Regions from separate parts of the Homo sapiens genome. Here region 1 is linked to region 2. Evidence: fine-mapped expression QTL. A gene starts in region 2. The other region holds a variant in brackets. All regions are shown on one strand. Distances are from middle to middle. Region 1 overlaps LOC112267932 (a long non-coding RNA gene). Region 2 holds the start of AK6 (adenylate kinase 6).

The links. PIP is the estimated chance that this variant, and not a neighbour inherited with it, causes the effect.
Region 1: its variant is the best candidate, but not a certain one, in a credible set for the expression of AK6 in testis (GTEx, PIP 0.51).

What each region holds. Positions count from the first base shown.
Region 1 is chr5:69,183,660-69,186,681 of GRCh38, reverse strand. The region is part of intron 1 of LOC112267932 (a long non-coding RNA gene); the gene reads left to right. Among named protein-coding and RNA genes, the nearest start is that of CENPH, 4.4 kb to the left of the region's middle. The variant C/T (reference allele first, on the strand shown) is at 1,271.
Region 2 is chr5:69,368,502-69,371,001 of GRCh38, reverse strand. AK6 (adenylate kinase 6) reads left to right here and starts at 1,482. Exons shown (of 5, transcript NM_016283.5): 1 at 1,482-1,539. The coding sequence starts at 1,512. It overlaps TAF9 (TATA-box binding protein associated factor 9), which reads left to right and starts at 1,482. Exons shown (of 3, transcript NM_003187.5): 1 at 1,482-1,539. It overlaps RAD17 (RAD17 checkpoint clamp loader component), which reads right to left and starts at 1,184. Exons shown (of 19, transcript NM_133338.3): 1 at 1,069-1,184. RefSeq lists an enhancer at 381-930.

The sequences.
Region 1 (3,022 bases), 180 kb after region 2:
AGGAATGTTATAGCTAGTGGTTACCACCTTAACCAGATGGTCAAAATTGGTATCAAAAATGGTATAACAATCTGATGTCTGATTCTAATATAATGCATGAGTTGTACACATCACCTATATTGCCAAATGTGTAACCTGAACTTAACTGTGCTGAAAACATGAGACAAGAAATCCAGACTGAGGAACATTCTACAAGACAATTCATGTCTATGTCCTGAAACACAGAAAACAGGGCAGTTGTTCTATATAGAAAAACAAACCATGATTGAATCTTGGATTGGAAAAGGAAAAAAAATAAAAGCCCTAATACATTTTTGGAACAACTGAGGAAATTTGAATATGTTCTGCATATTAGATATTAAGTTACCAATTTTCTTAGTGTGATAGGATTGTGGCAGGGTTTTTTTTTTTTTTTTGATTTTTAGAGTCATGGTCTCACTCAGGTTGAACCACAGGCCACCATGCCTGGCTAATTTTTGTAGAGACAGTGTCTTGCGCTGTTGCCCAGGCTGGTCTTAAACTCCTGGCCTCAATTGATCCTCCTACCCTGGCCTCCCAAAACACTGGGATTACACCGCTGGTGTGGTGGCTCATGCCAGTAATCCCAGCACTTTGGGAGGCTGAGGCAAGAGGATCTGTGGAGCCCAGGAGTTCGAGACCAGCCTGGCCAAGATTTAAAACAAAAACAATCATGGGATTACAGATGTGAGCCACTGTGCTAGCAGAAAGATGCCTTTTTAACATGCCACATCTTCAGTAACATTAAAAATCACCAGGCACACTTGGTTTATCAACCAAGGAAAGCACATACCTTTCCTTCTTTTCTTTACTTTCCTTCCTTTCCTTACTGTTCTGAGGCTTTTTAATAAAATTTCACTCCTGCTCTGAAACTTGCCTGGGTTTCTTCTTCTGCCTTATGCCCCTCAGTCAAATCCTTTCTTCTGAGGAGGCAAGAATTGAAAATTCTTAAAAAAACACCCAACATCAAGCTGACAAAAAATAAATAAATAAAATCTCAAAAGATATTGACTGGCCAGGTGCGGTGACTCACACCTTTAATCCCAGCACTTTAGGAGGCCGCGGTGGGCAGATCACGAGGTCAGGAGTTCGAGACCAGCCTGACCAACATGGTGAAACCGCATCTCTACTAAAAATACAAAAATTAGCCAGGCGTAGTGGCATGCGCCTGTAATCCCAGCTACTCAGGAGGCTGAGGCGGGAGAATCACTTGAATCTGGGAGGTGGAGGTTGCAGTGAGCCAAGATTGCGC[C/T]ACTGCACTCCAGCCTGGGTGACAGAGACACCATCTCAAAAAAAAAAAAAAAAAAAAAAAAGAAAAGAAAAGAAAAAGAAAAAGATATTGACTGGCCAGGTGCGGTGGCTCATGCCTGTAATCCCAACAGTTTGGGAGGCCGAGGCTGGCAGATCACTTGAGGTCAGGAGTTCGAGACCAGCCTGGCCAACATGGTGAAACCCCCTCTCTACTAAAAATACGAAAATCAGCTGGGCATGGTGGTGAACACCTGTAATCCCAGCTACTCGGGAGGCTGAGGCAGGAGAATTGCTTGAACCAGGGAGGCAGAGGTTGCAATGAGTCGAAATTGTGCCAGTGCACTACAGCCTGGGCAACAGAGGGAGACTGTCTCAAACAAACAAACAAAAGTACACTCCACAGGGTGGTAGCAGGCCAAGCATAGGGTCCCAAGAGCCAGGTTACAGAATTTTCTGGGGTTTAAATACCCTCTAGAGGTTTCCCATTGGCCACTTGGTATACACCCCATGCAAATAAAGTAGTGTCCCACAATTAGTATGATTGGTTGTAGAAAGCAGCCAATCAGAAGTACTTTCCACTTTCCATCTGCCACACAGGAAAAGGGGGGTGGGGGTTTGCAAAGGGAGTACCCTCAGGTCCATTTGTTACTTAAGTGTGGAAAGTTGGGGTTTTCCTTTTGATTTAGTTCTAGGAAGTCAGCGTGAATCTGCCTTAGGTTCCCTGCCTCCAGACCCTATTCTATTGCCTCACTTTCATGACTAAAATATAGAAAATATTTAAACTAGAAAATAAAGGAGATGGTGGGAATAATGTAAAAGCTACAACCACAAAATAAAAATGGTAGAAATGGTAACACCAAAAACTAGTTCTTTCAAAAGGCCAATGAAATAATCTCATGGGCAAGTCTGATTAGAAAACAAAAGTACTCAACATCAGGACTGAGAAAGAAGATATAACTGTACATTCAGAAGAGATTAATTTTGTCATGGTCCTCTACAACTATAACTTTAAAAATCTAGAATGGATGATTTTTTTTTCTTTTTTTTTTTTGTAAGAGGCAGGGTCTTGCTGTGTCACCCAGCTTGGAGTGCAGTAGCATGAACATAGCTCACTATAGCCTCAAACTCCTGGGCTCTAGTGATCCTCCTGCCTCAGCATTCTAAGTAGCTAGGTCTACAGGCACATACCACCATGACTGCCGGGCTAATTTTTTAAATTATATATATATTTTTTCTAATAGAGACAGGGTCTCACCATGTTGCCCAGGCTGGTCTCAAATTCCTGGGCTCAAGCAATCCTCCTGACTAGGCCTCCTAAAGTGCTAAGATTCGATTTTTTATATTTTTTTAGAGACAGGGTCTCACTATGTTGCCCAGGTCAGTCTTGAACTCCTGGCCTCAAGCAATCCTCCTGCCTCAGCATCCCAAAGTGCTGGTATTATAGGCATGAGCCACCAAACATGGACATAATTTTCTATTGTTGCAGGGTGGGGGCGGGGGCCAGGGGAACATCTCTAAAAGAGCGATTATATCATACAGAGAGAAAAATTTTTAGAGACCAAAAAAGCATGGAATATCTACCATTTTATTTTTTGAGACAGGGTCTCACTCCCACACCCAGGCTGGAGTGCAGTTGCGTGATCTTGGCTCACTGTAGTCTTGACTTCCCTGGCTCAGGGATTCTCCCACCTCAGCCTCCTGGGTAGCTGGAATCACAGGTGCACTCCAGTACGCCTGGCTAATTTTTGTATAG
Region 2 (2,500 bases):
AATTTTTGTCTTCATTTGAACATGTTATTACAAAATTTCTTGGTAACACTGTTTTTCAACCGTGTTTTCAAATTCTTAAATGTTTATGCAAACTAGTGAATTCAACGATTTTAAGTTAGCCAGAAGAAAAGTTTAAGGTCTACAAACTTATACATTGGAAAGTATACTGGACTACTTTACAGTTTGGAGGCACACATAGCCTATAAACACCTCGACACACTAGAAAACACATTGTTCAGCCCTCCGCCCCAAATCGTTCACGATTAGAGACTGTGACGTTTCAAAAGGTATACAGGTGGAAAAAAAACACCTATTTGAGTAAATATAGTTTGTAGCTCGAAATAAAAGATGCAGACCAGGGGCCGGACGCGGTGGCTCATGCCTGTAATCCCAGCACCGTGGGAGGACGAGGCGGGCGGATCATCTGAGGTCAGGAGTTTGAGACCAGCCTGGCCAAAACATGGTGAAACCCCGTCTCTATTAAAAATGCAAAAATTAGCCGGGCGTGGTGGTGGGCGCCTGTAATCCCAGCTACTCTGGAGGCTAAGGCAGGAGAATCACTTGAACCCAGGAGGCGGAGGTTGCACTCCAGCCTGGGCGACAAGAGTGAGACTCCGTCTCAAAACAAAACAAAAACAAACAAACAAACAAAAAAAGGTGCAGACTGTTGTCACGGTCAGGTCTCTATTCACTCTTGAAAACAAGATTGACAATTACCTCCTTTAAAAAGCAGATAACTGTCCCTGAAGATGCGAGGTTACTGAAATGAGATGTCAGAGGTAGACCTTCAAGACTATTCCTAGCCGACCCACCACCACCCCACACAGTGAACAGGGAATACTAAGCTCAAATATTCGTCCAACGTAATCCTGTAATCAGTGGGGTGCCGGGTTGAGCTCGCAAATCCCCGCTGCAGGACAGGGCTCTGCACCCTCAATCTTCTCATCCCCAGATGGGATGGGCGGGTCGGGAGGAGGAGCGACGAGAGCCCAGGAAAGCTTGAAGGCAGAGATAGACTCACGTCTCTAAGACATATACATAATATAGCCGCAACCGCGGCGGCCTTACTTTCCCGGAGCTGCATCCCCTTTTAGGCGAAGAGCGGAGGCGACCAGGGACTACCCTAGGTGAAAGGGCAGCCACCTGGCCCTACCCGGGCTCAACGCCGAGCCTCTCGGAGGTACGGCCTCCCGGGGACCTTCCAGACTGGTCGGCGCAAGCGAAGGGCGGGGACCACCGAAGGAGTGTGTGACTTAGGCATCCAGCGCACTGCCTGACCCGAAGTACCGACCCGAGTTATGCCCACCCTCCAACTTTGCGACGGAAATGTGTCATCGAAAGCCAGGTAACCAGTGGGCCGCGGCTGGGCCGCCGGGGCAGGCTAGGGGCGCCGCGGTGGGCTTCGGGGCCTTTGGGGCCGTGGGCTTTTGCTGCCGCCCGCCCCTTCCGGCTCCTCCCTGTAGAGCAAAGGGCACGTGAGCGAGGCGCCCGAAGCCGTCGCGGCGGGGACCATGTTGCTTCCGAACATCCTGCTCACCGGTCAGGGCGCGCGGCCGGGAGGGACTGGGCTGGGGCAGGCTGGGGGCGCAGAGTGCTCTGGGCATCGGGCGCCCAGGTGGGGGCCCCTCACTGCCCTCTTCAGAGGCCGGCCGAGGGCCACGAGGCGGTTGTCAGCGCCCCGGGAGCCGACCCTCGCGGGCGTTGCGGGAGGCGAGGGAGGGGACGCGGAACGTTAATTCCGTTGGCCTGAGGCTCCGGGGGGGGGCGGGGGGGGGTGGAGAGAGGTCGGCAGATCCAGCTCTCCAGCTTGGCAACCTGCTTAGTCTTTCTGAATCTGGTATTTCGTTTGTAAAATGGGTTGTTGATTCTTTGGCAGGGTTGGCCTTGGGATTTTTAGCGAAATAACGTAAGGCCATATCTGCTTCCCGGTAGAGTCATTAATGGTGGATGCCTCACTCCTTAGGCCTCCGTGGGCCGTATTTTATTTTTTCTTTGCTTCTGATAAACGCCTCAGATTAGATTTCGGTAAACGAGTTCAGATGTTTGTGACGTGACGAAATTGCTGTATGCTTTTGTTGAGTTACATCAAAGGATCCCCCCGCCCCTTAAAAGGAAGGCATATAGAGCATTTCGGGTCGTTTCTCGCGTAGGAGTGGGTCTTTGAAGCCATACTCAGGGTGCATGTTATCAGTGAAGGGAATTAAAATGCTGCATAACGACTTTAACGAATATTTTTGCTAGCCGTTTAGTCCTGAAAGTGTTTATCAAATTGTAGGCCATTCGTGGAAAAATCTAATGCATGTAGATTTTATTGCAAGGTACAGAAAAATTAAGACTCTTTGTGGGAACAGTAAAGTTACATCATTCACCCAAAGGTAAAATTGTTGGCAGCGCACAAGACATGTCTGTTTCTGAGAGGTGCAGATTAACCACCCCACAAATAACGTTTAGAATTTTAGATTCCTTAAGCGGAAGATTTTACATCTTTTTGCATGGATCA